3 separate regions of the Homo sapiens genome follow, and regions 2 and 3 are each linked to region 1. Evidence: fine-mapped QTL for protein levels in blood plasma. Region 1 holds a variant in brackets. A gene starts in each other region. All regions are shown on their reverse strands.

The links. PIP is the posterior inclusion probability: the model's chance that the variant is causal. The UK Biobank Pharma Proteomics Project read protein levels with antibody pairs (Olink). The fine-mapping took linkage between variants from a reference panel, not from the people measured, so its PIPs are less certain.
Region 2: CD6 starts here. The variant in region 1 is fine-mapped to the plasma level of the CD6 protein (UK Biobank, PIP above 0.99).
Region 3: SIT1 starts here. The variant in region 1 is fine-mapped to the plasma level of the SIT1 protein (UK Biobank, PIP 0.98).

Annotation. Positions count from the first base shown.
Region 1 is chr17:78,134,052-78,136,808 of GRCh38, reverse strand. TMC8 (transmembrane channel like 8) reads right to left here. Exons shown (of 16, transcript NM_152468.5): 8 at 2,245-2,415; 9 at 1,800-1,939. Among named protein-coding and RNA genes, the nearest start is that of TMC8, 4.7 kb to the right of the region's middle. RefSeq lists enhancers at 2,192-2,301, 2,016-2,541, 2,542-2,757. The variant C/A (reference allele first, on the strand shown) is at 1,943.
Region 2 is chr11:60,970,188-60,972,944 of GRCh38, reverse strand. CD6 (CD6 molecule) reads right to left here and starts at 1,265. Exons shown (of 13, transcript NM_006725.5): 1 at 1,031-1,265. The coding sequence starts at 1,079.
Region 3 is chr9:35,650,664-35,653,420 of GRCh38, reverse strand. SIT1 (signaling threshold regulating transmembrane adaptor 1) reads left to right here and starts at 2,490. Exons shown (of 5, transcript NM_014450.3): 1 at 2,490-2,667. The coding sequence starts at 2,568. RefSeq lists a silencer at 2,710-2,757.

The DNA.
Region 1 (2,757 bases):
ATTACAGGTGTGGGCCACGGCGCCTGGCCAAGGGTTCTGTTTTTAGATCAGTTTGAGAAACACTGCACAGTCCAGCCATGTTCCCTCATGCCTGGTGTGGAGAGGCACATGCAGCAAGCCCTGCGGTGGAGAAGCCTGTGGCCTTTTCAGGATCCTGACTGCAGGCGAGCTCCTCCTTTCCTCCGCCGCCTATGGACATTGAAGCCCACTGACACAAGCTTGCATGTCATAAACACGTGCCACACATATGTACTGCACAATGCATGACCAGACCAAATAGGTGATTGTCTAAACGAAACATCATCACATGCATGTTATCTGTTTTTGCTTTTTTTTTTTGAGATAGGGTCTCACTCCATTGCCTAGGCTGGAGTGCAGTGACGCGATCACAGCTCCCTGTAGCCTTGACCTCCTGGGCTTAAGTGATCCTCCCACCTCAGCTTCTCTAGTAGCTAGGACTGTGTGTCCTAGTCTTTCATCATGCCCAGTTAATTTTTTTGTATTTTTTGTAGAGACGGGGTCTTGCCATGTTGCCCAGGCCGGTCTCAAACTCCTGGGATCAAGTGATTCTCCCATCTTGGCCTTCCAAAGTGTTGGCCTTTACAGGCGTGAGTCACTGTGCCTGGTTGCGTGTTATCTCTAAGGGTGAACATTCCCACTGCTGATATGGGGCTACAGAGTGGCTGGGAACAGTGGTTCTCCTGTTGAGGGAGCTAGGGGTAGGTGAGAGCTTTTTTTGTTTTGTTTTCTTTTTTGAGATGAAGTCACACTCTGTCACCCAGGCTGGAGTGTAGTGGCGCAATCTCTGCTCACTGCAACATCTGTCTCCTGGGTTCGAGTGATTCTCCTGCCTCAGCTTCCCGGGTAGCTGGGATTACAGGTGTGCACCACCACACCTGGCTGATTTTTGTGTTTTTAGTAGAGACAGGGTTTCACCATGTTGGCCAGGCTGGTCTCGAACTCCTGACCTCAGGTGATCCACCTTGGCCTCCCAAAGTTCTGGGATTACAGGCGTGAGCCACCATGCCCGGCCTCAAAAAATAAAGTTTCAAAGCAAACCAAACACAGCTGACTTTGAGGAAGCAGAGGGAAAAGCAGTTAGGGCAAGTGGTGACTGAGGGTGGCGTGAGGGAGAGAAGCCAGTGGGAGCTCAGGTGGGCTTTACACAAGAATTTCTGCAGCTGGATGAGGGGTGGAGAAGTAGGGGGTCTAGACAGGACCTAAGTGCTGAGACAGAAGATGGCAGAACCTGGGAGTGGTAGTCCCAGCTGCTCCGGCGGGAGGATCGCTTGAGCCCAGGAGGTCGAGGGCTTGCTTTTGAACTTGCACCTGGCAGGCACGATGAGCTTGACTTTGGCTGGGCGCTTCACTCATGTGAACCTCAGTTTCCTCATCCCTCAAGGGGGATGAGGATGGTCTGGACTTCACGGGTCACGTGAGGGTTGTCCAGGTAAGGGGAGTAAACCCTCGGCATGTAGAAGCTCTGCATGTCCCGTGTTGCTGGTTTTCCTGTGTGCAAAGCCCATTCCCAGCACCCCTGGCCACAGTCCCTTGCTCCACTGAATGGCCGGAGCTTGGTCCAGACTGGCGGCTTCCTTTGGAGGTGGGGGATTGGAAAGCCTTAGACCTGGGGCCCTGAGGTCGTGTGCTGTGAGGTGTGTACCTGCCTTCCCTTGGGCCACTAGTGAAGGGGGAAGCCTCTCAGCTGGGGACCCCAGGTGCCAGGTGACAACCAAAAGAGAGCAGCAGGATGCAGACTTGTTACATGCCCACTTGTCCCCACCAAGGGTGGCACTCACCAGATCAGAGTGAGGTTGACCTCCGTGTTGGGAGGGTAGTTCTCCAGCTGGACCAGAAATGTGAACAGCAGGGGACCCAGGAAGTTGACCAGGGCGATGACCCCAGGGGGCAGGTACTGGAGCAGCAGAAACAGGGACTCCTG[C/A]GGGAAAAGGCAGGTCAGGGGAGCCCGCGTGCTGGGGGGCCCCTGTCTGCTCCCCGCCCCCCACAGTGCCCTAAAGTGTAACTCTGGGGCAGGCCCAGAATAGGGTCGCCTGTAAGCTATTCCCTGCAGCAGCCTGGCAGTTGGCGGGAATATCCAGTGGGAGCCCGCCTGCCTTGGCCGTGACCTGTGGCCACGACCGATTGAACCTCTCTGAGCCTCGGTTTCCTCATCTGTAAAATGGGATCATCCTGTCTCACCCCCGCAGTTCTGGCCAGGATTAAATGAATGCAGTTGCCTGACACCTCCTTGTTGTCCTGTGAGTACTTGGTAGCCCAGAAGATGGCGCTGATGGCCCCAACCACCAGGAGCCCGTTGAGTACGTTGACCCGCAGGTAGGAGAGCAGGCGGCAGGCCGTCTGGGCCCGGGTCTGCTGCTGCATCAGCTGGAAGCGACGGCCCTCCTCCAGCTCCACCTGCCCGGAAGGGTGGGGACAGAGGCAGCTGCAGGCGGGGTGGGCATGGGAGGAAAGGGTGCAGGAAACGCTCTCACACACAGTCACAACCATTCACGCTCACATACACAGTCACAAACTCTCACACTGTCATGCTCCCATAGACACTCAGATTCACACATTCACAGGCGTGCTCGCCATCACCCATTCAGTCACATGTGCCCTCACACTCGGCCACACATGCACACACATTCACACGCTCTCCATCACGCTCCCACAGGCTCCCTCCCACACACGCTCACACACACTGGCACGGTCGCACTTGCTCGCACACACCTGGAACACGTGGCTCTCACGCACTCG
Region 2 (2,757 bases), not on the chromosome of region 1:
CTCCAGTTCCCAGAGCCGAATGGCTTTCCCTGAACCAGTATGAGGCCACAGGCTCGGAACACATGCCTGGAGATCAAGGCAGAGAGGAGAGCACTCCCTGCCCAGAGTCTCGCGACATGTACCCAGTCCTCCAAACCAGCTCGATGCCCCCTCCTGACTGGGTCTTCCTGGGTCTCCTCCATCACAAAATGAAAGCACTTGGCTCTCTGGCTGCAAGGTGGACCCAGACTCCCCTGGCCCGAATTCTGTTTCCATACCAGTCTTCCCAAATCCCAAAATGTGAGAGCTCGATGGGGTCAGGATCTCTTGCATCTCCAGGCCCCTGCCCCGCTCTGGCCAGCTTGGACCCTGCACTCAACAGGGGCCAGCAAGTATCTGGGGAGCACAGTCTAGTGCCCCAAACCTTCTGGCCATCTGATTCCCTGGCCCAGGTGGCCAGGTGCCTTGACACTTGGGGGCAGCTTGAGACGTGGGGGTGGCCTTCATGCTCGCTTATGCCCTAGACTACCCCAGCTGGTTGTGCTGAGGCCATCAGCGCCTGGTTGTCCAGAACTCTCCCTGGCTTCCCTGAGTCCTGTTTCGGGAGGTGCTCTCCTGTGATTGGCCTACGCCTGCTGGACCCCAAGCCTCAGCTTTGGCGTTGAAAGTACCACCATCAGTGGTCCTGCCTCTCTGGAAGGTGAACGGTTCCTTCTTAAGAGTTGGCAAGAAATAGGAAATGGGGGAGTTCCTGAGCTTAAGGATGGGAGAGGCACCTCCCTCCTCACACCCTAGGGACCCATTGGTAAGGCACAAAGCATGCTTCCCACATTCTGTCACTCCAGGAGGCTTCCAGGCACAGCCCCAGCCCCTCGAGGGGCTCCTGTGTCCTCTCCTAGCCCCAGATGCTGGACCTCCCTGGTACCTGAGTGTAGTCTTGGCTAAAAGATCCTAGAAAAGTGACCACAAGGAAACAACCAGAAAGGGGACTGAGAGGGCCGGACCCGGCTCCTCCAGCACCAGTGGCAGGAGATGAGGGAAGGGGGCCTACCTGAGAGGGCTGCCGTCAGCAATCCAGTGATCCCGAAGAAGAGCCACATGTCTGGAGCTGTCTCTGGCTGCTACGCGTGGCTGCCTGTGGGAAGCACCATCTTGGGGCCGGGAGGTGGACACGGCCGTTGTGCGCCCCTGGCGCAGGTCTGCTCTACCCTTTGCTGTTCTTGTTCCTGTGTCTCTCTCTGCTCTCTCCTCTCCGACACGCATGCGATCAAACCCAACCTGTGAGTGTCTCACGCCTGCTTGTTCTGCTTGTGGTTTTGGTCTGCAGGAAGCTGGGCTGCTGTTACAGGGGCTGGTGGGGAGAGCCCCAGCTGCCTGTGCTGGGAGCCCACCCATCCAGGCTGCACCCCAAGAGTCACGGAGCCAGACACACGCATGCACACGCATCCATGCAGACACACTTCCCCGAGGGTCTTCTAAGAAGAAGGGAAGTGGAAGAGCCATGCCTCATTTCTGGTGGCCCAGAAGAAAAAATTGATAATGTAGTAGCTGCTCAATCAGTACATATTGGAAGAGGGAGTGAATGACCCATTGCCTGTCCCGGTCCGTGTAATTTGGCTCTCTTGGATTAAATCCTGAGTTTTATCTTAACCTTAGGTGCAATGGTGGTTGGGAAGGAGGGTGTGGTCTTGATGCACTTTTGGAGATAAGAGCCTAAGTCTCCCCTCAGAGAAATATAAATTGGGAAGGGCCTGAGAGATGGCCATCCCACAAGTCCTTCTACAGGGAAGGGTGCCAAGGCCTTGTGGGAGCCGCCCCGTCAGATGGCACAGTGGGGCCAGCTATCCCATCTCCAGGTACCAGACTGGGCATGCCTCCGTGGGAGTCAGGCATGGGAGCTGGGTCTACAAGGCTGAGCAGGATTTTGACAAACAGCAATCATGGGAGGCCTCTGGGCCAGAAGGAATAGCAGGAGCAAAGGGCTGAAGGAAGGAAGCCCAGGGCTGCCTGAGAAACCCCGAGTTGCCCCATTGCACTGCAGCAGACTGACGCTATAGGAAGAAGGCAGGGGCCAAGCGTGTTTAATTCCCATGGTACTCCCTGTGGAGCATATGGTAGGAGGTGAATAAATGTTTATTGAATGAGAAAAGGAATAGATAATTTGGTTGTCCAAGCAGGGCCCTGGAAGTGGTCAAATCCAGAAGGGGTTTGGTTCCAAATCCTGGCCCTGCCTCAATTGGTCCCATCCCAGGTCCACCTCTCCTGGCCCTCCACTTCCTGCATCCTTGCTTGTCTTCATTTCCCCAACATGTGGAATGAGGAGCGGTCCTCCTCCATTGGGTTCGGTCCTAAATGTGGGTGTATGCATTTGATGCGGCAAGTATTAGAGCCACGGGGAACCAGGCGCCCCCAGAGTGAGACTCCTCCCAGTCCTGCCCCAGCGCCGGCACCTGCTGCCGCTGCCCTCTGGTGGAAGTCACTGGCAGCACAGGTTTGCATGGGTGCCTCGAGCTCCCAGATGCAATTCCATTCATTTACACAGTCTTGGTGTGCAGAACTCTGGACAGGACTCTGTGGAAGTGAAAGAGAGGAAACCATATTCCTGCCCTCAAGGAGGATGAAGTTCACACACACACAAGTGACCAAACCACAGGCCAAGGTAGGACACACATAATGTGAGGTCTCCTGGTCCTAAGAGGAACCCGTTTGAAATGGGCCGGGAAGGATGGCTAGACTCCATTTCTGACAATATGGTAGACAGCAGATGCTGAAGAATTC
Region 3 (2,757 bases), not on the chromosome of region 1:
CCACCTCAGCATCCCAAAGTGCTGGGATTACAGGCGTGAGCCACCATGCCCAGACCCAAATTTTTCTTGTTTTCTTTCTTTTTTTGGGGGTGGGGGGCAGGGTCTCACTCTGTTGCCCAGGCTGGAGTGCAGAGGCTTGATCTTGGCTCACTGAAACCTCTACCTCCTAGGCTCAAGCAATCCTCCCACCTCAGCCTCTCGAGTAGCTGGGACCACAGGCGTGCACCATCACACCTGGCTAATTTTTTGTATTTTTGGTAAAGACGGGGTTTTGCCATGTTGCCCAAGCTGTTCTTGAACTCCTGGGCTCAAGCGATCCTCTTGCCTCACCCTCCCAACGTGCTGGAATTGCAGGCATGAGCCACCATGCCTGGAACAAAGTTTTATTTTTCAAGTGGATCATTTAAAAAAATGCTTTATGGCCAGGCACGCCACTTCTCTCCAGCCTGGGCAAGTGAGCCGAGATTGTGCCACTGCGGTCTGGTCTGAGCGACAGAGGGAGACTCCATCTCAGATAAATAAATAAATAAAATTAAAACAAATTTAAACATTCTTTATATGACAAAATTATTCTCAATGGCAATTATAAAATGAATAATAAGGGCCAAGAAATAAACTCAGTGAATATTTTCTTTCCTTGAACTTTGTAAATATAATCATGTCAGCATAAAAACAGCCATGCATTGCTTAACAACAGGGATATGTTCTGAGAAATGAGTCACTAGGCAATTTTGTCATTGTGCAAACATCATAGAGTGTATTTTCACAAACCTAGATGGTGTAGCCTATTACCCATCTAGGCTACATGGTATAGCCTGGTGCTCCTAGGCCCCAATGCTTACAGCATGTTACCATACTGAATACTGTAGGCAGTTGTAAGACAATGGTATTTGTGCATCTACTGTAGAGACAGGGTCTCTCCGTCTGTCGCCCAGGCTGGAGTGCAGTGGCATAATCATAGCTCCCTGCAGCCTCCAACTCCTGGGCTCAAGTGATCCTCCCACCTCAGTCTCCCAAGTAGCTAGGACTACACGCTTGTGTCATCAGGCCTGTCTACTGTTTTTGTTTGTTTTTTGGTAGAGATGGAGGGTCTCACTATATTGCTCAGACTGGTTTTGAACTCCTGGCCTCAAGCAATCCTCCTGCTGCCTTGGCCTCCAAAGTGCTGGTATTACAGGAATGAGCCACTGCACCTGGTCCACTACAGCAATTTAAAAGTTAGATCTGGGCTGGGCGCAGTGGCTCATGCCTGTAATTCCAGCACTTTGGGAGACCGAGGTGGGCAGGTTGCTTGAGGTCAGGAGTTGAGACCAGCCTGGCAACACAGGGAGACCTATCTCTACAAAAAATGAACTAGATTAGCTGGGTGTGGTGGCACATGCCTGTAGTCCTAGCTGCTTAGGTGGCTGAGATGGGAGGATCACTTGAGCCCGGGAGATCGTCAAGGCTGCAGTGAGCTGAGATTGTGTTACTGCACTCCAACCTGGGAGACAAAGTAAGACCCTGTCTCAAAAAAAATATAAAACTTAGATCCATAAAATATTTTTCAGGGAGGATAATTTTATCACTGATTTTTTTTTTCAGAATTTCTGGAACATGGTGATAATAAGAGGACTGATTTTTATTTTTTAAATTCTCTACAGACAATGCACCCCCTTATTGCCTGCAACTCAAGGGGCAGGACTTCTGCCATCCCTATTGTTGGCATGCCACTGCACTGATTTTAAACTTTTAAAAAATGTTGTATGGGCTAGACAAAACACATCTCTGACTTCTGGTCTCAGGTTTATATTTGCAACTTAAAATCCCTCTTCCTACATCAATAGCCTTGCACGTGATGGAGTTAGCTCTAGGTATGGCAGGTACTACACCCGCTGAAGTGAACATGTGCAAGATAGGGCTCAGTTTCCCAGGACAGTCCTACAGCAAAGAGTTTTAAAATGCAATTAATTATTGAGAGTGACAGTTCTTACAGACAGTTTGGATGAAGTGGGTTGAAAGGGGAGGTTTGGGGGTGTCCCCCAAATTATAATGCCCCCAATGAAACAATAACAAGCATCATCTAAACACATATCCTCTCAGATCAGCCTTAGGGTGTGATGGGATCAGAGGTACCAGGAGGCTCCCCCGACCCTTCCACTTTATACCATACTCATTGAGGAATACATCTTTCTTCTGGGACCAGAGTCAGGGAGGAAGGTGGGCATCCTGGAGCAGAAGGGGTGTTCCTGTCCTTGTTAGTCCTGCTTCACACCACTTCTGCCCCCACCCCCCGCCCTCAGAGTCCTCAGGGACTCAACTGCCCGTGGCACATTACCCACAGGCCTGCTTCTCTTCTCAAGGGGGGCAAAGGGCCTGGGCAGCGAGGGTGGGGGAAGCTCAGGAGCTGCAGGAGTGGCGCAGGTGCAGGCACAGGGCGGGGTCTTTGTTCTTTTTTTCATCCCTCCCCTCCCCCTTCCTCCCCGGAAACCAGAGACTTTGCCACCACCAGTATTGGGGATGCTGAGCTGCGGGGTACGGGCCTGAGGAGGGATGGGAGTAAGAAGTGCTGTGGAAACCGTCAGGCCATGAACCAGGCTGACCCTCGGCTCAGAGCAGTGTGCTTGTGGACTCTCACATCTGCAGCCATGAGCAGAGGCGACAACTGCACGGATCTACTCGCACTGGGTGAGCTGGGCAGGGCAGGGGCTGGTGGGGGAGGGGTCATGTGGCCCCAGGTCCCACCTGCTGGGCCCTGGGGGTGGGGCGGGGCTGTTA